3 separate regions of the Homo sapiens genome follow, and regions 1 and 3 are each linked to region 2. Evidence: fine-mapped expression QTL. A gene starts in region 2. Each other region holds a variant in brackets. All regions are shown on one strand. Distances are between the middles of the regions.

Evidence for each region. PIP is the estimated chance that this variant, and not a neighbour inherited with it, causes the effect.
Region 1: its variant is the best candidate, but not a certain one, in a credible set for the expression of SAMD4A in whole blood (INTERVAL, PIP 0.82).
Region 3: its variant is the best candidate, but not a certain one, in a credible set for the expression of SAMD4A in whole blood (TOPMed, PIP 0.86).

What each region holds. Positions count from the first base shown.
Region 1 is chr14:54,762,124-54,772,371 of GRCh38, forward strand. SAMD4A (sterile alpha motif domain containing 4A) reads left to right here. Exons shown (of 13, transcript NM_015589.6): 8 at 2,332-2,417; 9 at 7,981-8,099. Among named protein-coding and RNA genes, the nearest start is that of SAMD4A-AS1, 79 kb to the left of the region's middle. The variant C/T (reference allele first, on the strand shown) is at 5,721.
Region 2 is chr14:54,563,212-54,573,459 of GRCh38, forward strand. SAMD4A (sterile alpha motif domain containing 4A) reads left to right here and starts at 3,917. Exons shown (of 13, transcript NM_015589.6): 1 at 3,917-4,127; 2 at 4,285-4,901. The coding sequence starts at 4,706. RefSeq lists silencers at 1,999-2,068, 2,699-2,828, 3,389-3,438, 3,559-3,748, 4,589-4,648 and 2 more.
Region 3 is chr14:54,778,069-54,788,316 of GRCh38, forward strand. SAMD4A (sterile alpha motif domain containing 4A) reads left to right here. Exons shown (of 13, transcript NM_015589.6): 12 at 6,469-6,552. Among named protein-coding and RNA genes, the nearest start is that of MIR4308, 95 kb to the right of the region's middle. The variant A/C (reference allele first, on the strand shown) is at 5,100.

The sequences.
Region 1 (10,248 bases), 200 kb after region 2:
CCTTTGGGTAAGAGCGCCCCTTTCTACCTGGGCTACCCTCTGCCTTTTCTGGGGCAGACCCTTATTTCCATATCCTTGAAAATGTCCACCAGTAGAATAATTTATGCTTAATTGGGTGTCTTACAAGACATCTTGATTATTTTTTAACATGTGGCAATGCCAGCACTTTTCCTTTGGAAGGGGAAAACAATTTTTTCTCTGTTATTGTCCAATATTTCAGACCATTTTAAAAAACCAAGTTTGCAGTAAGAACAACCCCCACCCTTCCACCACCCACCTTAAGGCATGTCCTAAAAAAAGACTTAAATTCATAGTAATCTGGTGGAGGAGATGACTCACAGCTTCCCTTGGAGCTTGATGGCCAGGGTGGGCCCTCGCTCTCCCCCACCCACCCCTTAGCTGTGTTGGATTAGAACAGATTTCCCCATGGGTGAAGACACAGCTCTGCCAAGCCCAAGTGGAGCAGCTACTGAACACGCGGCACATCGCCCTACTTCCTGAGAGACCCACAGTGCTATGGCCCTGCTTCTTTACATTTTACCTACGTTAAAGGAAGCTGTAACCCCAGTTAACACTCAGCATACACAATTCAAATTAACAACATGGTGGAAAGTGGAAAACCACCCTCCCCCAACCCCAAACCCTGCCATCCTCATTCCCAGGGATAGTCACTATTAAGTTTTGGGATATCCTTTCAGAAACTTCATCATCATACATAAGCACATGAATATTCACTTTTTTTTTTTTTTGAGATGGAGTCTCGCTCTGTCACGCAGGCTGGAGTGCAGTGGCGCGATCTAGGCTTACTGCAAGCTCCACCTCCCAGGTTCATGCCATTCTCCTGCCTCAGCCTCCCGAGTAATTGGGACTACAGGCGCCCGCCACCACGCCTGGCTAATTTTTTGTATTTTTTAGTAGAGACGGGGTTTCACCGTGTTAGCTAGGATGGTCTCGATCTCCTGACCTCGTGATCTGCCCGCCTCAGCCTCCCAAAGTGCTGAGATTACAGGCATGAGCCACCGCGCCCAGCCGAATATTCACTTTTATACACACGCAGGCCTTATTTACATTCTTTTCTACAGGCTGGTGGGTTTAAAAAAAAATACTATAGCCGGACACGGTGGCTCATGCCTGTAATCCCGGCACTTTGGGAGGCCAAAGTGAATCACTTGAGCCCAGGAGTTCAAGACCAGCCTCGGCAACATAGTGAGACCCTGTCTCTCAAAAACAAAATAATAAAATTTAAAAAGTATATATACTTACAATATTTCTATCAGTACAAATAGCGCCATCTCAAAGTTTTTTTTAAAGATGGCATACTATTCCACTGTATGCATAAACCGTAATGTATTTAACAAAGTCCCAATTAATAGGCAGTGAGGTAGTTTACAAGGTTTTGTTATGACAAACAATGTTATACTGAAAGTGTATGTGCAAAGGCAAGAAATAAATGGGATTGTGTGACCAATCAGCCATGCAGGGTTAGGGACAGGGAGGAATCAAGTATGATGCCAGGTTTCAAGCTTGGTCTCCTTGAGTGTCAGACATTTTTACTCTCTGGCTGACTCCTTTTGTCCACCCATCTCCACTGTGGCCCTGTACACATGACTAAGAAAGTCGGGGAATCGTCACCTCTACAATGAGACCAGAATGGGCCACAGTAACATGGCCGTGAGAAACCTAGTGCGTGTGTATACTCTACCCGCAGACTAACTCTGTTCCATCCTATTTAGCACTGACTTGAGTGTGTAGGTGAGCCTGCGCCTGTGTGTGCATAAATGTGCATATCACTCTGAGAAAGCAACCCTCTGAGGAGTGAGTAGCAGGCCTCCTGCACATGTGCACACCCACACACCTCCCCGTCTCCAGGAGGTGCCAGCTCGTTCCTCCAAACACAAACGCCGCTGTCTCTGCACCTGGCGAGGGGTGTGCGCTCATTCATAAAATCACGGAGGCTGCTCTCTGACAGTGTCAGGGTCTTGGATACTTCTGAAGCCCCTCACACAGAGCCACTTTCAAAGACCAAGCTCAGGACGCCACTATTCACTGCTGTGTTCTTCCTCTTATTGCAGTGTCTTATTGCAGAAGGCTTCATATAGAATGGCATGACTGGAATTAACCCAAGGGGCTTCTCGAGACAAGGGCTCCCACGGTGACCCAGCCTTTGACTTCTGTGGAATGAGGAGCCTCTTGGCCTTTTTTGTGAGCCTTACATAAAGCCACAGACACACATACCTCTCAGAGTGTTGGACCTGAAGGGAAATGAGAGTCAGGTCCCAGAGATTAGAAAGGGGTGCATTTTTCTAATTCATCTTTTCTTTTTAATTACAGTGTGCACACAGCTCTTGGTCTCCAGACCTGATGAGGAAAATATAAGTTCCTATTTACAGCTCATAGACAAGTGTCTAATTCATGAGGTGAGTAGTGACAGGTTTTACAAAACCATTTTTTTTTTATTGCTTAGAAATGGTTCTCAGAGTTTCTGTGATGTGATCATTTTAGCCTCCAACAACTTGTTTTTGAGTGGTGGACAGTTATTAATAATAGGTTGGGCAGAACTAGGCTATGACAGCCTCAAACCCAAACACAGCTTGAACATTACTTTGGTGTCCAAAGATTTGCCCAGACTGAGTGTTCTGATGTGCAGTGAACGCCTGCAACGACTTCTGGCTGGGGAAGCAGCCCCGGGTGGCCAAGCCTCAGAGGGTAACACATGAGCCCTGCTGCTTAGCCCTGGGCATTGTCAGGTCTTTTAAAAATCTTGTGTTGAACTCTTGCCTTTTAGCTCAGGGAACTGGAGAGAGGAAGGGAGAAAGAGAGCCCATAAAGAAATAATGAATGTGTATATGTGTGTGTGTGTTTGGGCTTGCGATTGTTGTAGGAATCGTATTTGCCACATATCCTTTTGGAGGAGGCCTGAGGCAGGCTGCAGGTGTGCCTACTGGACCCTCAGGCACAGTCTTCATATACAGAGTGAGATAGACCCTTTGGCATGGCGGGGCTAGGCAGCCGTCAGCACTGGTGGCTGTCCCTAAGGGACATGTAGGGAGAGGGAGTTGCACCTCAGACCTAAAACTCCAGTGGCTCCTTGGGCACCCCTCCCTCCCCACAAAGAGCTACAGCAGCAAGGCCTAGACTAGAGAAAACTTGGGACCAGATAAACCTAGGATGGTGAAGTCTTTTTGTAGGATTTCGATGTGAGAATAAGATAGTAAGGGGGCCGGGGTGGTGGGTCACACCTGTAATCCCCACACTTTGGGAGGCCGAGGTGGGAGGATCACTCGAGGCCAGGAGCTTGAGACCTGCCTGGGAAACATATCAAGACCCTGTCACTACGAAAAAAAAAAAAAAAAGCCAGGTGTGGTGGCGCACACCTGTAATCCCAGCTACTCGGGAGGCCAAGGTGGGAGGATGGATGGCTTGAGCCCAGGTGGCCAAGGCTACAGTGAGCTATGATCCTATCACTGCACTCCAGCAAGAGCAACACAGTGAGACTTGTCTCGGGGAAAAAAAAAAATAGTAAAGGCCCCAGGCCTCCTCACCTTTGCTGCATGGGCAGCCAGTACTCCAGGAGTCCAGTAGGGTCCGGTGAAGGGAGACGCCCAGCACAGCGGCCAGGCCCCTTCTCCACTTCCCTCTCATGTTCTCACCCTTCCAGCTGTCACATGGGCCCTGTGCTATCGAAGTTCTCACGGCCCTCACCCACTACCCACACTTCACATACAAGGGTACAGTCCCCCTCTGGGATTCCATCCCAGCTCCCCCTTCCCCACTTCCCCAAACCCTCATTTTTGCAGTTTCTCCTCTTGGCCGTATGGATTCTTATGTGCCCAAGCGGCTCTGGCCAAAGTTGTCAGTGTGACTACAGTGACCAGCCGCCTAGGTTGGGGGCTCAGACACGCCATCCTCTGAAATGTTTAACTATACCAAAGTACTAGACTTTTCACTGAAAAAAAAATGGTTTTTTCCCTCTTTAATGGCTTCCCTAGAGCACCCAGGCATTGTCAAAAGCCCGTACTGAAGGCTTATTTGTGACTTTGTTTCAGGGACAAGGCCTTCTCCCCACAAGCCTTGACTAATCCTTTTCTATTTCGAATCCTGACACTGGACTCGTTTTGGCCAGGAAAAAGCGACAAAGGAAGAGAAAGCAAGAACACAGTGAAGAATGTTACAACTCGTCCATTCCCTAGATACTTACTGAGCACCTAGGCAGGTTACAGTAGTGAGAGAATTAGGCAGGTTACAGTAGTGAGAGAAGGGGTGAGACAGAAAGAAACAGGCCATCACAGCCATGATGAGAAAGCCTCTGATAAGGTCATCCCTGAGTGCCCTGGAGCACAGAGGAGCAGCAGCAGCGGGCACCAAACCTGGAGCCAGAACAGGGCATTTCCGTGGAGGAACCCTCTCCACCCTGAGACCTGAAAGGCAAGCGAGAGTCCTGGTGGTACAGACTCGGTTCGTAAGGAGGCAGAAGAGAGTGATGTCTGCAGGGCTCCGTGTTTTGTTGAGAAGTAGGACATTTGTGGGTGGCTTGGGGCAGACGGAATGGGGAGGATTTCAGCCTCTGATAAAAGCACACCGGAACTCTGCTTCCTCTCCCACGCCTGCTCTCAGCATTGATATTGGAGGACAAGGTACTGTCCACCTTGCCTCAAGACAGCTGAGCCCATGAGACAGAAATCGTGAGTCCTCCAGCTACCTGTGCCAAACAATCCACAGGCTTCCTAATTGTCCCTCGGCAGCCCCGAAACTCTGGCCTGACGCTTCCTGCTTGCCTGCCATCCTGCATGTCCTCCCTTGGTACCCTGGCTCTGGTTTTGTTTTTTCCCCTTGACCTCCGTGCAGCCCCAGGTGATCTCCTCTGGTTGCCCAGAGGGGCCTCTCGTGGCTGGGGGCCCCGGTCAGGAAGGAGCTGGTGAGGTGTCTGCTTGCTAAGTTCATGTCAGGATGGAGGGGCCTGCGTGCTGCTTTGGAAGGGAAAATGTTGTTCAGGGCTTTTTATGATTTTACTTTGAGAGAGAGGAAAAGCTGTCTGAATAATTTTCCACAGCCTCCGGTTATTCTGTGTGGGTAGAACACGCCCTGCCTGTGAGGCCCCGTGAAGGCGCACAGCCTCCATCCTGGAAGAAGTTTCACCCGGGCACAGAGAGACAGGACGCCCCTTCATAGCCCGGACACGCTGTTCCTTAGCTGGCTGGGAGCAGGGAAGGTATTGAGTGGGCCAGGACACCTCCCTTCCTTCCCGGGATGGAGGGACCGAGTCCCCAGAGTCATGAATGGAAGGAGAGGAAAGTTCTGAATTTTACTTCTGAGACCAGTCACTTTGACTCCTGAATTATAATCCCAGGCCTCTGGGCACTTCCCTGTGTCTTGAGGTGGCTCTGAGAAGATGAGCTCTTGCCGCTTTATGAACCTTTTCATCCAGCCACATATGCTGGGACACCATAGCCATCTTCCTCCAGACAGATGCATTGGTCTAGGCCTGAGAGGGCCAGAACTCTGGAGTGGTGACTAGGGGTGCCTGGGCAGTTGCTGGGCATGAAGCCTTCCCTTCCCCTCCAGGCCCCTTGGGAAGCTGCTCCCCAGCCCAACCTGGGGCTGCCAGCGGAGGGGGCTGCAGTGAGATTTTGGGCATCATAGCCAATGCAGATCCCCCATAACTGAGCACTCCCCTGTAGGCCAGGAACCAGTGTTCAGAAACTCCTGAAGCCAGCCACAAC[C/T]GAGCACCACATCCCCAGCTGAGAACCGGCCCCCACTCTCACTCAGCACTGCTAATGGGCTGGCTCCCATCTGCAGCCCTGAAGGAAAGGAGCCCGCTGCCCATTGAGGTGCTCAGGGAATGCGCCGACCTCCCCAGGAAGGCGCCAACATTCCCACCTTCTTGGATGCTGTTTGCCACCAGGGAAGATGTCATGTCTGTAATGATGTCTTAGGAAGCACATCCATGAAATGAGCCCTTTACTCCGTTGTCACTTGGAAACTCAGGCCAGTTGTCCTTCAGGCTGGCACCAGACCAGCTCAGTATTATAGTTTAGAGACCTTGAAGTCATTTGCTGTGTGCTATTGGAGCTCAAGGTCATGTTGAATACTTAACGCGATGAACAGCCGTATACCACCACCAAACGGCCGGTCTGTGCAGTCCAAAACAAAACCCCAGTGTGACACCTGTGAGTGGCATCTATTTGAACCGTTATTAAGAGCGAGGCACGTTCCAGGTATTCTAAGTGTTGTTCATGTGTTATTTCATTCTCACAACATCCTTTTGAGGGAGATATTATTATCCTCAGTTTCTAGGAGGCACTGAGTCTTGGGTAGAGGGGCATGCGTAAAGGCGTGCAGGGATTCGAGCCCTGCCCATCTGCATCCAGAGCCTTCCTCTGGCCCACAACTCTCCTCCCCAGGTCACCCTGACCAGCATGCCCACATGTGTCCTCACACAACATGTGGCTGAATAAGCCAGTCAAAAGCAGAAATGATCCCCTCTCGCTGTTAGTCCAGCAGAAACGCTTGCCTTTTGCCCAGTTTCAGAGGTACTCGTGTGTAGCTGGACATGCAGGGAGCATCACCAACCAATGAGAGGGACTGTGGAGGAGAGCCACGCCCTCGCCTCCTAGCCCACCTTGATGCATATTCTTAATGGCATCTGGCTAAGGTCACCCGGGAAGAAGGGGTTTGTAAGTCCTCAATGACGTTTCTGCCACATGATTAACATCCTTCTGCTTTTGTCCACAGAGTTCTCCTGGTATTTAGGTCCTTAAAGATTCAGCATCACTGGGAGACAACTAAGCTGTCATTTTTTTTCTCCATTTAAGGAATCTGTTTCCTTTATGGGAACTAGTCATTTAGTCTGTTACTGAGTAATATTTTATGACTACTTAAAGGAATTCATGCCCTATTGACAAAACTGCTTCGGAAACTTCTCTCCCTCCTTGTTACTGTGAATCAATCAAATCACATGGATTTCCCACAGCACGTGTTCTAAGTTACAGTTCTAGTCACTTGGCAGGGGATTCATATGTGACGTGGGGTCCTCACCATCTAGAACACCTCATGTTCATGCTCTACCTGCAGCAGAATTACCAGGGCACTTGGTACAAACACAAACTCTCTAGACATCCCCTTCAGATCTACTAAATCAGGCTCTGGGCATGTGGAAGGGAGCCCAGGTATCTGAATTTTGACTGTCTCCTTGGGTGATTCTAATATATCATGAATCTGAGAGTTCCTGCCTTGGAGACTCCTAACCCACATAAAGTCCTTTCCTAGTCTGTGGCAAGTACAAAGGCTAAACGCAAAAGGAAATATAACATAGGTAAGAGTTTGTTACAAGGCAGCAGGCAAAACACACACACCAGTTTTGCTAGAAAAGAGTTCTGCAGGCATCAGACCTACATACTTCCCTAAACTTTAGAGAAGGTTTAAGTCAGGACTGGTACACTGGAATTTTTGTAAGGCAAGAGACCCATTAACTGGAGATGTCTCAGCAAAGCCCTGAAACACAGAGAATATAGTCCATTCTCTGACACCCTGTAGACCACTCTAGGGTGCCCACACACCATCAAGCAGATTGATTTTTGGAGTGGTTGAGAATTTTCATTGATTATGAAAATGCAGGGGGCCTGCAAAAGCCAGAGTATTCAACAATCAATTTTGCAATTCATTCTTGGTTAATAAATAGAGTCTGGAGTGGAGTCAGGAGGGAGGGGGAATGTGGATATGGATCTGCCAGAAATGTCACCAAAAATGAGGGTTGTCAACAGTTTGATGCGTGTACCTTATCACGCACCTCCAATGTCAGATAACTTAAATTTTCAAAATAGGGCAGCTCCCAAATTAAACTGACTACGTTTGGACCAGGTTAGAAACAGGTGAAGAAAAGGCAACTGCAGAGACTCCAATGTTTTCCCCTTATTAATTGCATGTTTCTCCCTCTAATGCCAGGCTGCGTCACCCATTTAAAAGTCCTGTTTGTTTTTGCAGGCATTTACAGAGACACAGAAAAAAAGATTGTTGTCATGGAAACAGCAGGTGCAGAAGCTCTTTCGGTCTTTCCCTCGGAAAACCCTTCTAGACATATCAGGATATCGACAGCAAAGAAAGTATGTTGGGATTTCATTCTTTGTAATGCGTAGTGGTTCCCCTGGCGCCTTGTTGCCTACCTCGGTTCCTGGGGCAGGAATATGGCAGGGCACCATTCCTTGTTCACGAAGATGCCCTGTGGCGAGTTCCAAATTGCATTGCTTAAACAGGTGGGGCTGGGAAAAGGCTGTGAGAGTGAGCATTCCCAGGCGAAGAGCTGAATGTGAGCTTTTGTAACACAGTTTGCATTGTCAAAATGATGGTAATAGTCCGGATGGGTATCAGAGGGGAGAGTGGGTATGATTTAACAAATGCAGGCAAAACACAGGATGGCTTACCCACAAAAGGGGGATCTGAAAGGATAAAAATGGGTTGTTCTATCAATCAGCACCTTAAGTGGTAGTGTGATTTTTTTCCCCCTTCGTGCTGTAGACAAGCTAATTATAGTTGGTGGCAGGGTGAAGAGCCCAGTGCTAGTCTATTTTGGTCTGCAGTCTCATAGTGGAGCAGTACAATTCTTGATTTTTCCATAGTACTTCAGCTTCTTGCACGCAGTTAAAAATAAGCCTGGTTGTACTTTAGAACCCATTACCTTAATATAGTTTTAAATTGAGGAATCCAATTACATATTAAAGATGAACTGCAGTGACAATTTGTGGGAGAAATTAAGGGTAGAGGAAGGGTTAAGCCTTAAACAATGATAGGGAATTGTTGGGACATAAGGGAATGAGAATGTAAACATCCTGAAAAATTAACATTCTATTTTACACTTTTAAAACATGAGCAGATAATTTCTTCACTTGCACCTGAAAGGGTCTGAATTCATTTCATTTCTCGGTGCATGTATAGAAGCTCTCTGCCCGTGGTGTTAAAATTTTGGGCATTTATTTGCGTAAGCGTGCCTTAAAACATCACTATTTTGGATTTAAGGGAGATAAGGCCAGTTGAAGTTTGTGAAAAGACTTCATGAAAGATTAATTTTAACACTGAAGTGTGATCACATTCCAGCATATATAACGGTTATTTATTAAACAAACATTTATTTAGCACTTACATATGCCAAGTGGTATCCAAGCACTTTAAGAATATTAATACATTTAATCCTCATGACAACCATGTGAGGTAGAGCTGCTGTTGTTAACCCCATTTACAGACAAGTTCATAGGCAGCAGCATTGGGGATTTGAACCAGGCAGGCTGGCACCAGCTCCAGCTCCATGCTTTTAACCCTATGGAAGCCAGGCAACTCTCATGGTCTCAGGATGATGAGCAGAAAAGATTGTTCAGGCAAAGCGACACTCTTCAGGACCAGTTCCCTGGCCCCAAGCCCTCTGGGGTTGCCAACCCTTGTGGGTTGGACTAGACTACCTCTTTGCCCTGAGGATTCCCGATGGCCCAGATGAAAGGCAAGGTCTGCTTCCTTGGCCTCCTGCCCTGGGGCCTACCCCCATCCCAAGTGGCTTTTCTCTGAGAGCAGCAATACTTTTCCCAGGTGAATAGAAAAGGTTCCAGACTCCTCTTGCAACACCAGGCCCTTGGGAGACAAGTTCCAAGAGGAAGAAGGCATTCGGAGGTTGGAGATGAAGATGGGGCGGCTCTTTGCTGCTCCTCCCAAAGTCCCACCCTGGCCTCTGTCAGCCCTGTGTTGTCATTGGTCCACATCCGAGAGCCTTCTGGAGGTGGAGCAGGGGACATGAACCTTGACCTCTCCAGGGTGTTTGTTAGTAACACTTGGATTGGGCTAACCCAAGGTTTGCCAGGTTGGAGTCCTAATGGACCCCTTTTAATTGATTAGATAAGAATGAATCGCTTGTGGATGTTCAACTGGATGTTACTATAAGGCTGGAAAATGTTTTATACTCATAAGTATTTCCTCTGGGATCTTTTTGTGCTATTAATTTGCTTTGAAGACCTGTTTCTCCAATAATACAAAGGTAACTGCAACCCAACCCCTGCTTGAATTATCACAAATCCCAAATTAATTGGTTCTTATTAATGTTACTTTATCAAAGACTTTTCATGCATTTCAACATTTCAGTGTAATGAAATCAGATTTAGAAAGGTAAGGCAAGAGAATGAGAAAGGAAAACTTGCTTTTGTCACTTTGTTCTCTCCCCAGAAAGCATTGATGATTTCATTAAGCCTAGCGATCTTAAGTAACCCAAGCATT
Region 2 (10,248 bases):
TGAATGGCAATTATCCATTGTCATTTACCTTTATGTAGAGATTTTAATACTTTTGCTCATTTATAAAGCAAATAATTAAAGCTTACAGCTCTGTTTTTATATCTAATGCATTTCTTTTGTTTTAGATTATTCTAGAAGAAATATAAATTTAAAATAAACATGAAATCTCTGGGATTTCTTATTTATGCAAATAATACCCAGGCATCCTCTTAAACAGTGATTTATAAATATGTCAATGATTTATCTAGAATTAGTAATCTTTGGAACATCTGAACATTTTAATTATTTGATCAAAAGTATTATTCACTCAGAAAACAATTTCTTCCCTTCCCAGATTCTAAGGAGGAGAAAAGCAAAATAATGTTGGGAATGTTAATTCATGATAATCTGATCTGTGTTTTATTCATATAAAGTATCTCTTGGTTAGTACCCCATCGTGTATTCAGTGCCTGTACTTGGTACTCAGAATACTCAGGGTACTTATTGCCTAACCCAGTGCCTGGCACAAGGTGACACAATAAGTATTTTTCAAATGAATAAATAGGAATACAGTGAACATAGACATAGTAATATCTCTTCTAATGAAAGGATATTTTCATTCATTTTTCAAGTGATGTGACTATATAGTAAGTGTTAGGCACTTCTTATTTATCAATAATACTGGGTCCAGGTTGACATAGGAAAAATCCACACTTAATACAATACCTTATATTTAATGAATGTATTTTTTTTTTCCTTTAGAGTGATGACTTCACTCTGGGGAAGAGTGAGGCCACATCCCTGGGTTTTATTTATACTCCCTTTCCTTTGCCCAGAGGAAAGGAATTGTTAACACACAAATACAAGAGTACTGACAGCTCATGTCATGCTCAACTTTATATGTCTTAGAGTGTCCTGAACAGTAAGAATTCAAAAATGAGATAAATCAATGTCTTTTCCTAGGTCAAAGGCTGGTGTAAGAACTACACTTTTCCAGTAGATGGCAGTATTTTCATTCACCAGCTTAAGTTTTGTTTTTTTTTTTTGTTGTTTTGTTTTTAGTTTTACTATACCTTTAGTAAGCTGCAGGTGAAAATACATGTTAATGAAATTTCTGGTTTTTTCACTTTCTTTTAAAAAAAATTCACTCTTGGGAGCTTCCAAAAGCCCTAGAACGACATCTGCTTTGCCTACAATTTATAGCAAGGTATATACCGAAGTAGACCATACTCTCTAATCCTCCCTATTTCCTGATATAAGTTATTACTAAGAATTAGCTAATTCATAGTAATCTCTTGGAGAAAATCTATCAAGCCTTTCTGCCTCTACAGTAACAAAACAAAACAAAAATAAAACACTGACTTCAGGTTTCCTGTTTTCTAAATAGGGCAAAATATTCATTAAATTAAGCGGATACCTCACCTGTCTGGTTAATAATTAACTTTTAAAAAATCCACATTTTTGCAGCTCGACCTCGACAAGACCTTTCAAAAACCCTAACAGATGGTTAGGTGCTATCACGTGTCTGAAACGAACTATACGCTGCAGAAACTAAATTTGAGGAGGAAGGGAAGAAAGCATTTAAATTCCAGGGACATATGCCGGAGTTGGAAAACAAAAGTGTTAATTAGTGGAATAATATCTCAGATACTTTCTCTTCAAAACAGTGGATTAGCAGGAGTAGGAAAGGCTGGGTCTGAAACACGCGTTTCACTGCCTTCTCAGAATTACTCCCGTATAAACAAAGCCTCAAGTTGCTGGAGGGAGCAGTGTTTCCTCTGAAATCACGGAGATAGCCCAGATTTAGTCATCCAGTCCTTCTTGCGAATATTCAACCCATATCAGGAGGTACAGAGGTTTTTAGGGTTTAGGGTATTTTTAACCAAACCTTTACTTTCAAGACTAGCAGAGGCACTTTCGCAGCCCACCCTGCGCCACTCAGCCTCTGCGCTGCGCCCTCCTCGCCTCTCGCGCGGCAAGGACCTGAAGCCCCGGTGTGGCCGCGGCCCTGCGCACTCTCCAGATCCAGGTGAAGGTTGCGAGGCCTGGCGACGCCTAAGCGCTGACAGGTGGCCTCGCCCCGCCTCTTTGTCGCCCAGGGCGGCGCTCGCCTCCGCTCCAGGCCAGAAGCCGCAGCCCGCGCGCCAGGCACAGCTCCCCCGACCGGTCTCAGGAGTTCGGCCACCTCCCCGGGGAAGAGTGGGACTCAGCCAGGCGCCGGGCCGGCCTCTAGGAGCCTGCGCCAGAGCAAAGGGCATCCGGCACCCGACCCGGGCCAGGCCCTTGGACTAGGGCGGCACGGAACCTAGCGCCTGGGCAGGTCCAACCCTGCGCACTGCCCCTCAGCCTCGTGAACCCTTCGCCTCCACGACCCCCGGAACCCATCCCAGCAAGTGCGGCAGTGACCTCGGGTCTCACCGCCCGGGGGCCAAACACCTCGGCCACCCCGGGGCCCCAGAAGGGCCGAGGGTCAGCCGAGCGGACGAACCACATTCCCAAGGACAAGCAGCGGGTGGCAGCACCGCCCCCGCCCGAGCGCCCTCGGGTCCCTTTCTGCCGGGGCTCCAGTGGCTTGAGTGTCCCGACCCCTCCAGAACACGCAGGCGGCCGCAGGAAGAAATTCACCCGGACCCGTCCTCTTCCCCGAACTTCTTCGTTCCTCTCGGAGGTTCCTTCTACCCGACCCCTCTGCGCCACCAGCTCCTCCCACTCCGCTCCCCTCCCCTTTTTCTGGTCCCCACTTAGGAATCCGTCCCCCCGCCCTGCGCCGGGTCCGGGGTTCCTCCCCCCGGCTCCCCCCGCGTGCCGTCGCCGCCGCCCGGGTTCCTCTCCCCCCGCTCGGGCGCTCCCTGCCAAGCCCATGATGTAATGGTGTATGTTAATCAGTAGCATGTGGGGAGCTCCGGCTCGGGCGGCTCAGTCCTCCGCGAGCCGACACTGGAGGCAGCAGCAGCGGCGGCTGCAGCGGCCCCGACTCGAAGCACCGCACTCTCCCCGCGCCGCCCGCCCCGACGGCATGGCCCGCGGCCGGCGCTCCGGGCGCCCCCAACCCCGCTGAGAGCCGCCGCGGCCCCGGACCCGCGCAAGGGCCCCCGAGCCGCCGGGATGAGCCGCGCCGAGGTGAGCGCTCCCTCCCTACGGCCCTCGGCGGGGGACCCGCGGGTCACTGGGGGTCCCCTCCCCGGGGGCTTCCCCCTCCGCCCGAGAAGTTCTGGGAGCCGGAAGCAGCGTGTTGTTGGAAGCTAGCGGCTCCTTGAAGGCTGAGTCGCTGGGTTCTCCTCCCCGCCGGCGGCGGCCACGAGAACCGGGATGGGACTGGGGGAACCCCCGCAGCCGAACTTTCTTTGCTGTCGTTGGGGGGCGTGTGCCTGCGGCGCCGATCCGCATTCCCCGCGGGGCCGCCCCGCTGGCCGAAGGGAGCAGCGCTGCGGACCCCGGCCGTCCCCTCGCGGGGCGTGTGCCCAGCGCTGTGCCGCCCTCGGCCTGCGACGCGCGGGCGAGGCTCCGGGCCGGACAGACCAGCCCGTAGGCGGCGGCGGCAGGATGCCTGCCACACACGCGCGCACACACACACGCACACGCGCGCGCACAGTGACCGCTCCGGCCGGAGCAGGCCCAGGGAGACCTCCCGGGTGGGCTGGTGCGGCGCGGCGCGGGGGAGCCGGGGCTCTGGGTTGCGCCGCCGCCCGCTGGGCGCGGAGCTTTGGGTGGAGAGAGTTTATTTTTGTCTCGAGCTGCTGCCGCGGCTGCTCACGGCCTAAATCCAGAGGGGCGCCTGGCGGTGGAGATGCTGGCTGTTGCTGTAGATGGAGCTGCAGCCGCTCGGCTGCTTCTCTGGGAGGAGGAGGAGGAGTAAGAGGAGGAGGAAGGAACTCGGGCTGCCGCTGCCTCCGCCTCTGCTTTGCATTAGCTCCCACCCCCACCCCCGCGCCCCTTCGCAGCCGCATTGCAAGTTTTCTGCGCGGGGAAGATCTGTTGCTGGTGCTGGCGTTCTTAAGCACGGCGCCCGAGGCCACCCCAGGCGGGCCGTGAGGGGAGCACCAGCCGTTGGCAGCGGCAGCAACAGGAAGCCGCGGGGTCTCCTCCCGCACCTGGGAAGCAGGCTTCTCGCTGTTACCCGGTGGGGAATAGCCCATCTCCCACATCGGGTGCGGAGGGGGCGGAGGGGGCGGCTGGATTTCGGCGAACCCAACCTTCCGCGGGACGCCCCCTCCCCTGGCCCCAGCACCCTCTGATGCCCTCGTCCCCCCAGGGCGCGCTCCTCCGCTAGCCGAGGTCTCACTGCAGCTCTTTCTCTCCTTCCAGTGGTGATCGCCGCTCGGGAATGCGGGCGTGAAGGGTCCGAGTTGCCGCCCAGCGGGGAGGAGACCCCAGGACGCCGGAAATCACCATCCCAAAGCTGCAAGAAGGGGGGAGAAAGCATTCTTCATTCAGTTGTGTGCCTTGTGGGGGATTTTTAAAAAGTCGTTTTTTTTTTTAAAGAAACATTTCCGTGCTACTGTCTGTCATCGTCTCTGGGGAAATCAGCCAGAACCACCGGAACGTAACTGAAACCAGACAAGAGAGGCAGGAGCCCAGGCAGTACCTGCAGCGTCCGGGCACCAGAGCCACCTTGGAACAGGAACGCGTCTCCGGCCGCGGGGCTGCGGCTCCGCCAAACTTTGGGGCGGGCGGGGCGGGCTGGGGCGCCCAGGGGGCTCTGTAGACCGAGGGCGGCCCCCTAACCATGATGTTTCGCGACCAGGTCGGGGTGCTGGCGGGCTGGTTTAAGGGCTGGAACGAGTGCGAGCAGACTGTTGCGCTGCTGTCGCTGCTCAAGCGCGTGAGCCAGACCCAGGCCCGCTTCCTCCAGCTCTGCCTGGAGCACTCGCTGGCCGACTGCGCCGAGCTGCACGTCCTCGAACGCGAGGCCAACAGCCCCGGTAAGTGTGCGGCGGCCGCCGCCGCCGTCCCGCCTGCCCAACCCCCGCTCCTCCCTCCGCTTCTCTGCCTCGGGCCAGGCCGAGGCCAGTCCCTGCCAGCCGCGCCGGGACCTGGACGGCGTGGCCCCGAGGCCCTCGGAATCCACCCCCTCCGGGTGTCCCCCCACTACCGCCCCCCACCTACTTACCTCCGCCGGCCGCTTTGGGATTTTGCCCACTGTGAACTCCGTCAGCCCTTTCCGTGTGGTAGCTACGGTAGCATGAATGATTGATTTTTCTCTCATGCAGTTTCCTGGGAAATAAGTAAGTCAGGTCACGTAGAGTCTGGATTTTCTGGGTGTGTGTGTTTTTTCCTTCCTCCTCCTTCTTTTGGGCAACGTGGCTCGCTGGATTTCAGCAACACATGATAGATGCCCGGGACTGCCCTTCAGAAGCCAAGCTTGGATAAGGCTGTGTGAGGAGTACATGAAAATCCAATTTTATTATTCATTTTTCCCCACAGATATTCTGGTTTTAGAGCTTCGTCTTCAGAATAATATGCAGGTGACGCTAGAGACTAGTAAAATGACATTTGCAGCATATATATATATATATATATATATATATATATATATATATATATATATATAATGCGGTTAAGCTTACTGCTCGTGACATTATCCATATTGATACGGATCTTGTAGAAAAAAAGGGTCTTGGAGAAAGGACAGGCATGAAGTGGGTTACTTAATGCTTTTCGTTAGGAAACTTTACTGAATAGAACAGAATCGTTTCATATTACCCTGCTAGTATTTACAGACACCTCAACTAGTATGGAAAGTGAATATAGTCGAAAGGTCCAGCAGTTTCCTATTTGCTAGCGTGGGTGGTGACAGACTGAAATTATATCCTGGAGGGTAGGAGGAGGCTGGGGGATGGGGGGAAAGTCTGATGGTTGTGATTTTGGATAGGGGGAAATTCTTTAGTTCATGCTGCTGCAGGAGGGTGAACAGAGTCCCCAGTGTTTATGCAGAGAAAAGAATGCAGGGTCCTCTTCCAGCTGTTCCATGTTGGAGCTGCGAGCCTGCAAAGCTCAGCAGAGGTCTGGGCTGCCATTTGATGACAAGGTCCAGTCCAGGGCAGTGGGGCCTGGGAGACACTAAAGTGAGTGTGCCTTCAGAGCAGCAAGAAGCGAGCCGGCCTACTCATTCCTCCTCCCTAGTATGGTGTGCACGATGGTGAAAACACTAGAATGGGATGCTTCCATATATAGAATCATAGGGTGGAAGTGACCGCTGGAAATCTTCACAGTTCTTTTCCTGACCAGACAGGACTGCACCCGAAAGATCCTGCATGGCCAAGTATGGAGGGCCACATTGAGGGAGATTCCATTGAGCCCGAGCCTCCCAGCTCACACCAGGACTCACTGGGGTGGCGATGACAGGGCCCCCTTTGGTTGAGCTCCACGTTTATAAATAGCTGGAGGGCCAGCCTCCTTCACTGGGGTGTGGAAGCATAATTGGGTAACTGATGATCCACCCTCTTTGCTTCCTTCCTTAATTTCAGCGGGAAGCCTGGTTTACCTGCTCGGTTTTACTTTCTCAGGTTTGACAAACAAGGTTATATAAACTTTTGCATTTTATAGATTGCAGAGGATTTACGCAGAGTCATTTAGGTTGAATGCTTGATTTCAGTGCTGGTAGGGACTGTTCAAACTCATCTTTAGGTTATTCAAATGTTGGAGCAGCACTTTTTCCCTTTGAGTAATGGAGATGACTTTTCCCAATAGAGCAGCCACCAGGTTAGTAAGTAAAACAGTTAAATGTTAAAATAAGGTGGCCTAATTTTAAAAATCTCATAATTTAAAAAATTGAACTGTGAATTTTTTGAAGTCACTTGGCATTTTTTTTCCCTTAAGACATGTTTGGCCATACTTATTTGTATAAGATACCCACCTGTTCATGCTGCTAAATGATGTAGATATACAAAATATAGAACCATTGTGTAAGATAGGAACTGGTCTCCAGTTTCTGGATTAATCCTTCGCCTAGACGTTTTGCCTGCATGGAAATCTTTGCAGTTGTTTTGTTGTGTGGCCAGGACAGAAATTTCTTAGGAGGTCATGTGATGATTTGGTTTACTTTCGGAGTGTGGGGATCATAAAGAGCATCAGGAGTTGTCATAGCATACCTGAGTCTGTAGTGTGGCTCTCTGCATATCCGGAAACTAGCCAAGAACCAGGAAGGGGGCAAAAAGTCCACTTCGCAACCAGAGTAGATAGCATGAAAGTCCAAGAGAATATTTCAGGCCCTCTCTCAGAATGTACTTGCTCTTATTCTAGACACAATCCTAACATTTAAAAAATTTGACAAATAATCCGTAGTGTATTGGGGGTAACACATTTAGAATGGGGTGAGGGACTGCTGTAATCAGTAGTAAAAAGTGACCCCTGACAGCCTGACAACTTGGAAAGAGACAGAAAAACTGTAACTTTAGACAAGAATTGGGGCAGAAACTTTGAAGGCTTGGGAATATTAGGGTGGGAACCCTCAATTGACCTTGTAGGCACCACTCTATAATAACATAAACAAATAATTGCTATTTACTGTTGTTAACGGTGAACTATGGAAATAATACATTTTTAGATACACTCTTTAAGAAGAGAAGGAAATGTTCAATATACTTTGGAAATGTTTACACCCAGAATAATTAACCTCTGAGCTGTTTTGATGTGTAAGGCTCTTACCAATTCAGAAAACTAGGCTGTGCAGAATGACTCATTCATTGGATTGCTGAGATTTCCTGTACCGAAGTCATCTTGTATCACTTTATTTTGTAATCATCAATTTAAAAAACCCTCACATTTTGTCTAGTGTTTAGAGATTTTAAAACTTGGTAAATGGGAACCAAATTCATATATGGGACTCGATCTCAGTATAATAAAAAAAAATTACTAGTAATAGTATGAATATATCTCTCGTTTTATGCAGGACTGATTTTAAATAGTGAGATATCCTGCGCATTAAACATGATTTATTTGAGATTTGTGGGATGTAATTTGGTGCTTTCATTCTCTTAAATTTATTGAGAATCTAGTGATTCACTGGTTCATCCTTTGCCTCAGGCTCATGGTCATTGGAGATTCCAAGAAATGATTGAATCAGTCCCTATGGATTTATTTGTATGTGTTTTTCTTTTAACAGATATGGTCATGATCAGTTCTCTAGTACAGTCTTGTTCCCAGGATCCTTATAACCTTAGATAAGTCTCTTCAGCTACTGCTCCAGTTGAACATTGAGACTTCTGGCCAGTCTCAGTTCCAGGACTAGCAGGTCATTTGATACCTACAAGTAGCAAAAATGCAACCCACTGACTTTACCTGAAGTTTCCAAAAGAAAAATAGACTTTGTGGCATTGTTTATTTATGGCTTTTGTCACTTGGACTTGAAATATATTTTTCATAGAGATTTATAAGTTAATCCACAAAAACGTAACCCACAAAATATACACTATTTGTGTATGTTTGTGGTAAGTAAATGACAATAAATTCCTATACTTATAGTTAAATACAAGAGAAAAGGGTATCCAAAATGGTGATGTTTGAGACAAAAAAATAATTGTGGAGCTTGAAGACTCTCTCTCAGAATGTAATTACTCTTATTCTAGACACAATTCTAACTTTTTTAAAAAAATTGATAATCCATAGTGTATTGGAGGTAACATATTTAGAATGGGATGAGGGGCTGTCACCCTCACCCCATATTTGTGTAAACTTGCTGTCATTAGAGGGTGGGTATGTTGGTTCCATGATTTTTATGGTTTTGGTTTCTGTAGTACAAGTATGCCATCCTCCACCCTGCGTTACTTTTTAAGGTTACAAATGGCATAAAAAGAAAGCAGCAGAAGAGGTTTTCCTGATGATATGGATAAGATCTTGTTTGTAGTTTTTTCATTCATTTATTCATTCCACAAACATTTTCTGACTGCCTGCTATTTTCCTGACCCAGTGTTATGCAATGGAAATGTAAAGGTAACTTAACTCTAGTCCAGTGCCTAGTACAGATAGATACTCTTAGTGTGGGGTAAATGACTAATATAATATCATAGGTGTTGAAGCATAGATATGGGGATAAAAAGTATGAGGAGAGGCCTACTGGGAGCATTGTGAACCTAGCCACTTATTGCCTGGGGAATCAGGGAAGACTTCCCTGAGGAGGAGATACATTTGAGCTGAGTCCTGAGGGGCGAATAGGAGTTGGTTCAATATTTTAATATAAAAAGATTGTAAAGAGGGGTCAAGAAGGTATCTCCCATGCAGAAGATAGTGTTATCCCCTTTAATGTATGGGCCTACATGCATGATCCTCTGAGAGGCATGAGTGGAAGAGCCAGTTTAGTTCAGACAGTTTCCATTTTGGCCACATGGTGGCATTATCTTCTAAGGGCAGCTTGGTTGCTGTCCGCATTGGCATATGCAGGAGAAGGAAGGATGGAAATAGAGAAAAAAGTATTCTCCAGGTGCCCATCTATTTATAGTCATAGGAGGGCATAAGTTGTAGAAGATTTTTAGAGTACAGATTTTTAAATCAGCCTGGGCTAGTTAAATAATTTCTAAGCCTCAGTTTTCTTATCTGAGAAATGATGATTATAAAACCTTGTTATTGTCCGGAAGTTACTTGTTAATGATCCAGCAAGGATCTATTCTATCCCTCAGGTTTAAATTTGCCTTTAATTAATATAGAATTGATATGAATAATATTTTTCTAAATGATCAGAAATCTTTTCATTTAAAGGATTATGAAGAAGAGATTGAGGATGACTTGGAACCCTAAAAAGATATAAGTCTACTGGGACCCACCTTCTATGTTTTAGCTTTGTTTTTTCACTCTGTCTCCTAAAAATATGCAGCCCTGACCCAGTTTTCCCAAATAACTTATCAACACTTTTTCCTTCAGTTGGTGAATGTGAAAAGAAGAAATCATTTTGCTGAATGAAATATTTAGGGGCTTTATATATGAAGCACTTTTCACTTAGGGTTTTGTAATTTTCTTTGGGTCAGTCTGGGATGACCCTGCAGTTTACTGCTGCTTGTAAGTTGTAGCAGGTCACATATATTTGTACTCTTTGTTGTGAATAATTTGGGTTTGGTTGTATCGCCTGGGCACTCACGGCCTTCAACAATTGAGTATATGCTATAAACAGGCCCCATCAAAGCAAGTAAAAGGCAGAGAAACTTCACAACAGTCAAATTGACTTGTTTTTGTTTAAATAAACAAACGAGGACACAAGATGAGGGTTGAAGGGCTGAAAGTAACTGAAAACTTCCCAGACAGTCCTACAGAAGTCTAATTCTAGAGAGAATTGACAAC
Region 3 (10,248 bases), 210 kb after region 2:
GTCACCTTGAATGGGTCTTTCACCCTGGCCTCAGTCTCACCAGCAGAGTGACCACTGTCTTCAATTCTGTATACCTTCTCAAGGCCTTCTTGATTTTTTCCCTTCCTGCCACTCTTTTGCCAGTTCTCAGCCTTCCTCTTTGTTCATACTGAATCTTCCCTGAGCTTTCTCCATCTTAACTGGGAAGACTAGGTCCAGACAGTCCCCTTTCTAAAAGCTGGGTTGTCCCGGAGCGCTTCGGGTTTGTTGATAGAATCTTCCACCTATACCTTTGTTTCCCCTCCACTATCTCACAGCAATGCCAAGTGGCTGGCTTGTGCTCAGGGCAACTATGAACCTAATATCATTTTCACTCTTCATGCAAACCCTCTTGTTCCTGTGGTTAAAGAATCAAATAATACAGAAGTGCTGTGAGCAAAAAGTGACTGTCTCTCTCCCCTCCCCTTCCTAGCCCACAGGCACAACCCCTTTTAGCAGTCTGTAGTTACCTGCAAGTCTCTAAATAATATGCTTCGCACACTGGACTTAAAACTCTGGAACGCTTTGAGTGTTTTTTTTAAAATCTCTCAAGTATTACAAACCCACTTCCAGCAAGGTCTTAAAGATCCTCACATGGCATTTTTAATAACAGCCAAAGCACAGGAAAAAGCCCGCTCTAAATTTCCTGATTGCAAATAAACCATTGAACGCTGGACAGGAGCCACTCCTAAGTCCTGCCCAGCACGCTCAGCACCATGCTGGGTGGCTCTTCCAGGACATGCATAAAGGGCATGATAGGGCAGGGCCTGGCCAGGACCCAGGATCCCTCACTGAAGGGGAAGGAGGCTGCAGAAGGCCCCTGCTTAAGGGCACAGGGTTGAGGTTCCTCAGCCCTTGCCAATCATTGTCAAGGCCACAGGTCACTGTAGTGACTTTTCCTTCCTCCCAAGGAGGCAGCCTCCTACCCAGGGACGACACCTCTGACCTCCAAGCAGGTCCAGACGAAGGCTCATCCTAGAGTCATAGAGTCAGGGTCCTCATCCTGGATTCAGAGCCGCTTCTGCTCTTCCTGGATTCAGAGCCTCTTCTGCAGATGGGCCTTTCCACACAAAGCAGTGCAATCTGGTTCGCTATGGAGACTTCCCGGGGCTTGTGGCCAGGCGTTAAAACTAGACTACAAATATCATGTCAGGACAGCAAAAATCAGGAAGTCAGAAAGTGGCTTTCATCTGTACATGAACAGGAGTAATAGTGAACACAAAATGAAATTGAGATGTGTAACTAACCCAAAAGTAGATACTCGGAAAACTGTTATCATACAATGCAGTGTTTTCCTCCTGGCTGTTAGATGTCTTCAGAGAATCCATTGTAAACTGGGCAAATCTTGAAGACTACAATGCATTTGAAGGATGCTTTCATTCTGTAAACCTAAAATAACTCTACTGATGGGAGACTTTAAACGTCTCATACAGAGAAGACAGAGGGCTAGAACCCACCAAGTTGCGGATCAATTCATCAGTCACCTTGCTCGGGTTTACAGGACTCATCCCTCGTTCCTGGTTCTACACAATTCACGGGCACTTGGAGGCCCCTCAGGAGTGGTGTTTCATGTTATTCCCACATGGACAAGCTTTTTTTTTTTTTTTTTTTCGAGACGGAGTCTCACTCTGTCACCCAGGCTGGAGTACAGTGGCGCAATCTCAGCTCACTGCAACCTCCACCTTCACATGGACAAGTTTTAGCTGTTTCCTGGGACCAGCCAGGAGACCCTTCAGGTGGCTATTGCCAGTGATGAGTAAGAAACACTACGAGGTGTAATACGCTCACCAGAAAACAAGTGTGGCGCCTGTGCGAATGGTCACGTTCCTCATGGAGGCAGGGCGTTTTCTCAACTAGATAACTGGTTTGGAAATTGCTTGGAGAGGGATCCTTTATTTTGGAAGCAACTAATTTCTACTGACCCAGGCTTAGTTGTCCTTGGGATCCAGTCAGAGAGGATCTTGGAGTGGCCCTGGCTCAACAGTAGGAGATCATGGAGGTTCTTTACCCCCTGGAGGGCCTAACAGAAAAGGGCAGGGAACCCCATAGCAGGCTTCAAAGGAAAACCTTCAGAAGGGTAGGCTGCACAGCCTTCTGAAAATCTCATTCTTCCCTTGCCCAAAGCCACATGCAAACTACCCTTGGTTGTGAACCAGCTGGATGTGAGCTGGGTCCAGTGGCACCTCACATGGCAGCATTTCATGGTGTGACTTACCTGATCACCACAGCAAACCTCCTCTAAGTACCAGCTCACAATTGGGATTCTTCTGCCATAAGCACGCTGCATATATCTGGGAGCACAGGGCTCCAGGCTGTTATTTTTCATTTCCTTCCGGAGAACTGCCTTTAGAAAGAATAGAGAGTTATTGGTGCACTGGGTCCAGTGGGGTGTGGAAGGGGCTGCCATGCAGAGGCAGAAACCAGAACAGGGACCCAAGTACAGTACTGGATAAATATTTCCTCCATGTCTTCTAATAAATCAAGGCAGACATCCCTGTTCAGGACTGGCAGACAATGGGTAGGGAGATTGATAAATAAATCAATTCTGTCATAGCCAAGAACCCAGCTGGGCCCACAGCCTCCTGCCTCTGAGCATCAACTTGGGGCAAGATGGTACAATATCATCTTATACCATGTTGTACCCATCACTTTTTGTGAAAGCGTTGGTCCCAGAGGACCTCCACAGGCACTGACCTTCTGCAGGCTTAGGAATGTTAGGAGGCCACCAGAGAAAAGGTGCGTTCCCATGGTCAACTCAGGGATGCTATTCATTACTCCTGCCACCCTCCATGGCCATCTCTGCCATCCTCAGCTTGCCTGCTGCCCCACCCCTCTGTTTCCCTGCCTGTGCCGTTTCTTTCCCTTTTGTTACCATCCTCCCCCTTTCTTCTTAGTTCTCTTGTCTTCCTTTCTTCTTTACTCATCTCATCACAGCAGACCAGGTCCCACTGCTCTGTCCCTTTTTGTCTTCCCTGCTTTCTCTCCTCCTAGCAACCCTGCTGCTCAGTGAACCAGACTCCACACCTTTCTAGTTATCCAACAGAGTTGCCTCCGCTGTCATTGGCAAAACGGGATTCTATAGATTTTTCCTGGAATGCCCCAGCCTGTTTCTTATTCTAAAGTCCTAAAGAAATTGGCTCCTTACCCTCAGTGCCTTGGAGAAAAAGCACTGCAGAATTGCACCGTGGGTGCCACACATGTGAGACCCAGCAGGGATGGACGGTTACTGCCAAGGACAAGCCCTTTGGGCTCCTCAGGTGGATGCTGCAGCAGCACCTCATTAGGGATGGGTAGCATTCTCTTCCGGAATCTTCTTGACCCTGGGCCTGAGCACAGGACTACTCCATACGTGTGGGACTTCTGAAAAGATACAATTAATGTCTCAAGTCAGCCTAGACCTTGGGGATTCCAAAACTAGCGATCCTTACTGAATACTGGAATACTGGTCCTCAGAGATGCCATCTGAGCTGAAGAAACATGCCTCCTTTGGGAAAGAGCAGAGGAGGCTCAGTTAAAGAGGGGTCTTTCCTTTTGCCTTCCTGAAGACTCACATCTCCATCTGCCTGGTCTGTGGCCACGAGGGGCAGGGGCCTGGGATAAATGAGATGGGCCCTCAGGGTTAACAGGAGCCACAGCAAGGGTTGGCCTGGTGGTTTATGTTGGTCTGTGGGGCAAGAGCTGCCCGAATGCCCCTCTGGGGCACCTAGCCCCATACAGCTGAGGGTTCCTAGCCTGAGATGGAAGCTGTTTTCCACCCAACTGGTCTTTCTGTCTTATACGTGCGGCGAGATGGCATGGATCTGTTTTTATCAAATACACAATTAAAAAGTCACACTATTAGGAAACTCTGCAGTGTGAACATATGGGCTTCTCCCAAGACTTAGAATTTTTCAGAGCCACTCGGAGTGTTGGGGGTCACGGCTCCCCAGTGCATGGAAGCAAAGAGCTGGGGAGAAGAAGCGAACACCCCCACTTCCCACCTAAAAGAGCAGCCACGAAGGTTTGGGGATTCTGGAGCGGAGAGCCCTGCGTTTCTCAGCCCCCTTTTTGGAACACGCAATCCCAGGCTTGGAAAATGGCATTTTGCTGCGTGTTGGCAAGAAATCCTGCAGCTGAAACACTTCTCTCCAAATGTCGAGCATCTTTATTTATCCAAATCTCTCCACAGTGTTTGTTTAAAGGGGAGCGCTGGAGAGTAAACTAAATCTTACAATGAGCATATGGATGGCTATAATTGCTGAGGTTTGTTTTTTTTTTTCATATTTGCTAACTCGCTATATATAAAATTGTGTTTCTATTTTATAGATTTCACACCCTGAAGACTGCTAATTTTTGCATGCATATGATTTTCACATGAATGGATGAAAATACTAAAATCTCTTCCCCCTGGAATTGTCTAATTGCCCCGACCCTACTCTAACAGCAACTAGTGGGTGGGGGCGGTGGAGACTCCTGCCATTCTCTGTGGCACCCCACTTCCCTGGAAGCTCAGTCGGCCTCCGTCTGCTCACGTATTGGCACGGTTGTCTTCCAAACCCATCGATGCCGGAACATGGGTCAGGAAGAACACAGTCAGCTCTCTGGTGCTTTCCATAGCGTTCCTTTTTGCCAGGCTTCTGAGATTTTTAAATAACGGAAGCAACATCTGCCTCTGAATTAGCTGACAATGGGAAACACACATTGCAGAGATTATCTTAATGTATAGCAAATCAAGGAAAACAAAACTTTGACTTAACCATTGGTTTCAGCTTCCTATCCCACCAAGCCACCAACTTCGTTTCACTTCTCTTTCTTCTCTCTCTGGCCCCATGTGCTCCCTTGGTGGAGACATGAAGGAGCAGGCAAGTGGCCTGCAGGGGGACCCCGGGATGCTTTGCCCACTTGACAGGTAGAGGAGCTAAGGCCCTCAGCATGGAACAGGTTCCCAGGCTCACAGAGGAAGGTGGTGGCAACACGGAGACTTCTCGGTCACCTGGAACACACCCCGCTGTGGACACCCCCTCTGGGACTTTTTTTCTGCCTCTCCCCTTAGGATTTTGCAATTCTTTTCAAACCAGTGTCACAAAACTTTAAAAAAAAAA[A/C]AAAAAACAAAAAGGATTTCACAACTCTTAGCTGTCAGAGTTTCCTTCTACTTCTTCTACTTTCTCTTTTTCTTCGCTCAGTAGACATGTATGAGGCAGAAGGCCAGGGCTGGGCGCTGTGGGAGATTCAGAGAGATAGGGAAGCATCATCACTGTCTACAAGGCACTTCCAGGTAGTTGAGGACATTTAAAGTCGCCACTGGATGAGGCCTGCGGAGGTGCTGACAGTGAGGGCTCCAGCAGGTGAGAGGAGGTGGCTCCCAGACACTGCCTCCTGCTCACAAGAGGCGACATTGGAACCTGGGGAGATAGAGGGGTTCCAGGTGGTAGAGGGGAGATTGTGGTGAGAATGTGCACAGCACTGTCGGTCAGTGGGAGCCGAGCCCCTACTGCCTGCAGAGTGGGTGTCTCAGCCCTTGATTCTAGAGGCCCTCGAGGCTGAGTGTGTTGACAGTTACCTGCAGTTGCTGTGGCAGGTGGCTGAGCCCCGGCTCTGGAGTCAGAGAGGGTCTTGTCCCAGCTTTGTGTTAGTTGGCTAACTTTGATGAGTGACTTCACCTCTCTGAACCCCACTTGGGCTTGTTGGGCAGATTAAGGAGCCCGCACACCTAAAGCCCCCCACGTGGTCTCACACTAAGAGGTGCGTGCTGGGCCCTGGCTTTCCTCTCCCACTCTAGATGCATGCCAGGCCCTGCTCTAGGCACAGGGGGCAGAGCCATGTTCTGCTCCAATGAGGTGAGCACTCAGCGGGGTCAGGGGAGGGGGACAGTAGAAAGTGAATACAAATATCAAATATGACAGCTGTGGGCGAAGGCTATGAAGAAAAATAAAGCAGGGGAAAGGGATAGTGTGGGGGCATGGCTCATACAAGGAACAAAGTCCTTTCCAAGGAGATGATAGAGCCAGAAATGTGAAGGCAGGGAGAGCCATGGAAACCACCCCAGGGAACAGCGGTGCAAAGGCCGTGAGGTAGGAGGGGGCCTGGGGCAGAGCAGAGGAAGGAGAGAGCTGTATGAGGGTACAGAGATAACAAGGGCCTGGATCATGCGGGGCCTTATGGGCCAGGGCAGGAGGTTGGCTGTTACTTTGATGGGAGGCCGCTGGAGGGTTCTGAGCAGAGGAGGCACAGACTGTGACATGACCAGCTATTTTTAGTCTCCGTTTTGTTCCAGGTTCCCAAGTTCACAGTGGACTGTGTTTAACAGACCTTAGAGGTTGGTTGAGCCTGAGTGGAGCCCCTTCCATGCCAGCGCTGACAGTCCCCAAGTCCTCCCAGGGAGGTACACCAGACCTTTCTCCTGAAGGTGGAACCAGGTGGCACCCTGCTTATCTCCTCCTTGTCACCAACATAACCCTTTATCGCCTGCAGAATTCCAGCTTCCCGTGACCGAACCTGACATCAACAACAGGCTGGAGTCGTTGTGCCTCAGTATGACCGAACACGCCCTGGGAGGTGAGTGTGTTCTTCCTGCATGTCCCCATGTCCCTGTTACCGTGTGCCTGGGAGAACTGGCCATCTGCTGTCTATACCGTGGCAGGAGCTCAGGAGAATTGGGGGAGGACAAGGAGGGGTAGGCAGGGGACAGGGAGAAAGAGTGGCCTTAGGGTACTGTTGGACCATTTTCCAGCGGCACCATGCCAAGTGGCCAGTGCCCTGTTTCTCCTCCTTTTCTGGGAGGTGAGTCAGGGACCTGGCAATCAAAGCTGTCCCTCTGTCCCCAGAAGCTCCACCTCCCAGTGCACATGGGAATCACACCACAGCAGTTGTCCCAGCCAAGTGCCAGGCCTGGAGGAGTCAGGGACATGAGACATGGCTTTTAGTAGGAATATCCCGCACAACACTGGATGCTTCCCTTCTCTGCACTAGATCCCCCAGCCTGGTCCAAGCATAGCCCAGCTTGCCTTAGAAATATAATTTTTGAAAAACAGAAAACCCAGCTTGTTTGTGTATCTCCCAGTTGCAAACAACTTTCTTGACACCTGGAGCCCAAAGCAGGCTGAGGTGTCCTTTCCTGTGTGACAGGGACAGGTTGAGTTAGAGGCGCCTGCACGTCCACTGCCCAAGCCCAGAATGGGGGCTGTGCTGTGCAGGGCTGTGGCCCCACAAGCAGCTCACAGAAGCATCTGTGCTCCCCCGTGTGTTTGGCTGGAAGCCATGCTTGGTCACAGCAGCCCTGGGAGGCCTTCAGCTCCCTCCTGGTACTAAGCGGGCACCTTTCTCTGGGCCTGGATATTTATGATGCTTGGCAGGCAGAGGAGAGAAGAGATGTCTGCCATTTCCTGCCAGCTTCCTGGGAGGCTCTGTGCCACAGAGACACAGAGAGGCCTCCTGTGAGCCTTTCCAATAGCCCTATCCAGTCTACACTTGCTCTTAGCCAAAAGGCCGAGAAGCGATAGCCCTATCCAGTCTAGACACACTTACCCACCCAGAGAAGGGCTGTCTGCACACCTAGAGCCAAGACGTGCGCCACCTGGCAGTGGTGGGGAAAAGACTGCCATCCTCTGCTGCTTCAGAGAGCCTTGTCCTCCAGACCTAAGGTTGTTAGATTTTTAGTCTCTGCAAACACAATCTTATCCTGAAACCAAATATGAAATAGATCAGTGCTCTGCATGGAGCAGAGTGGTGGGCCCGGGACCACACCCACCTGACCTTAGCATCAGGGGGAGCTGAAAGCCTTCCAAGGGCATCACAGAGCTTCACCAAACAGATGGTGGGAAGACACAGCCCCTTCTGTGACTTCCCCCAGAGCTCTATAAAGAGCCTCATTTGCGAGCCACTGCTCTCTGCCTTGGCCATTCAGATCTCAGGAACATCACTGGGCCATCCCTGGTACCTCTGGCAGGAGGTGCTGCCAGCTCATCTTTACCTCATAGAGGAGACTGGGTCAGCAGCCCCCTAATGAGAAATGGGAGACAACTCAAATGTCCACCAAAGGATGAACATGGCTCAAAAAAATGTGGTGTATCCAAACAGTGAAAGAGCATTCAGCCTTTAAAAAGCAAAGAAGTACCAACCTATGCGATGCAGTGGATGAATCTTAACATTATGCTGAGTGAAACAAGCCAGGCATAAAGGACCACAGAGCGTATGATTCCATTTATGTGAAATGTCCAGGATAGACTAATCTACTGGGACAGAAAGTAGATGAGTGGTTGCCAGTGGCTGAAGGGAGGAGGATGCAAATATTCTGGAATTAGATAGTGGTGAGGGTTGCACAGCTTTGCAAATATACTAAAAACCACTGAATTGTATACTTTCAAAGGGTGCAATTTATGATATGCAAATATTTCAATTAAAAGTAGTAATGACAGTCTCCCTGGGGCCAGAGTTAGGATAGCAGCTGGTGAGTGAGTCCCCTGAGCTGGCACCTGCCAGAGCTCTGACATGGGGAGGGAAGCCCCTGTGCTCCCCTGCTCGACAGTGGCCAGCTGGGTGGGGGACTGACTCAGTCTTTCACTGCTTTTGACCAAAGAAAAAGGAGAACTGACCTTTTCCCCCAGGGCTTGATACATCTCAGACAATTGGCATTTTGGAGGCTCATATCAAACTGCTAAGTACCAACATTATCATCATTAGCAGCAAGAATACCAAATGCTCTTTATTAAAGGAAGGTTTTCATTGAAAAGACTTCGTTTTTTTCAGTCTGTTCTGTTTTTACAGAAAACCTCTCTGAACCGATGGGTTTTTTGCTAATGTTTTCATCTTGTTAATCTCCTAAGCTTTTTTAGTGCTGTGTTTTTTCCCAATGATCTCCTCTGGTGGGAAGCCTCGTAAGCAGTTTCCTGAGCAGAGAATGCAAATTAAGTTCAGGGTGGCCTAGTTGGGCACAGTGGCAGTGTGCCCTCCCAATATGACAGAGCTTCTCTGCTGGCCAACCCCTTCCAGGTGCCAGGAAAGATGGCCTTGCTGGAGACAGTATGCTAATGAGTCAAGTCCTTTTATGGGAAGAGGAACGGGCAGGGAGAGGAAAGCACAGTGAAAGAGGTTCCAATGCTTGCAACTCAGGAATGGAGAAAGAGAGGCTCACATCTGTTGGCCTCTAGGATTGGTGATCTGACACCACTGACACACTCAGGGACCATTGCTTCCTTTCTTTAAAATCTCCCCTAAAATCATACAGAACTTATATACAAGTGCACTGGGTCTGTTTGGACTATTACTTACAACAGCATGTGAACCTACAGTTATCTCAAAAGTTTCAACTGAGGAAGTGCTTCTCCTCCAAGGCCCCACTGGCAAGAGTTGCCAGCCTGGCTCCACCCACAAGGAAGCCAGGAACCAACCCCCTGTGGTGGCCTCAGCACGCCTGTCACTTGGGTCCTCCAGCTTTCCCTGGAACACACTGCCACTCCCTTCTCACACCCAAGTTCTGCCAAGCAAATAGAGATGCTGCATCTGGTGGACCAGTTCTGTAATATTGGGGCTTGGACTGGGACATCAGCAAAGCCAGGGAGGCACCCCACAGCCCTGTCTCACCCACATTTAGTGGTCACTGAACGCAGTTATTCCTACCGCCTGTGATGGCTAATCCATGCCTCTCTCTGCTCACTGGAAAAAATCCTTGTCAGTTCTGGCACAGACTGTTATAGGGGCCTCTTAACTGGTCCACCTGCCACCAGCCTTATCCTTCCTCAGGTTATCTGATGCAGCTGCCAGAGAAACCATTCTAAAATTAAATCTCATTACTCTACTGCTTATAATTCCCCAACTACCTACCTCTAAGCTCTTGTTCATGGTATGCAAGACCCTATGGTCTGCTCCTGGGGACCGTTCTAGAACCCACGTGTAAGCAGACAGCCAAAAAGGGGCCGGGCAGGCCTCACACCTCTGATGGTCATATCCCCTGCCTTCTCTGTAGCCTGGGTCATCCACTTCTCCAAAACGTAGATGTGGCAGATTCTGGGCGGCCTCAGCACTCTCCCACCTCCCCAAGACTGTTCAGTTCTAAGTGCCCACAACACCTACCTCAGACATCTCTGCCTTTGATCAGATTCTCGAGACAGAGAATCTGGATTTGTTTGGGTCAGATGTGTCCATCCCTCTGGTCTGCTCAGCTGTGGACAGGGTCACAGCCACCTTGTCCCCAGTGTCTCATCAGGGACGTGGGTTGAGAAGGAGAGGCTGCCAAAGAAAGGGATGTGAGCTAGA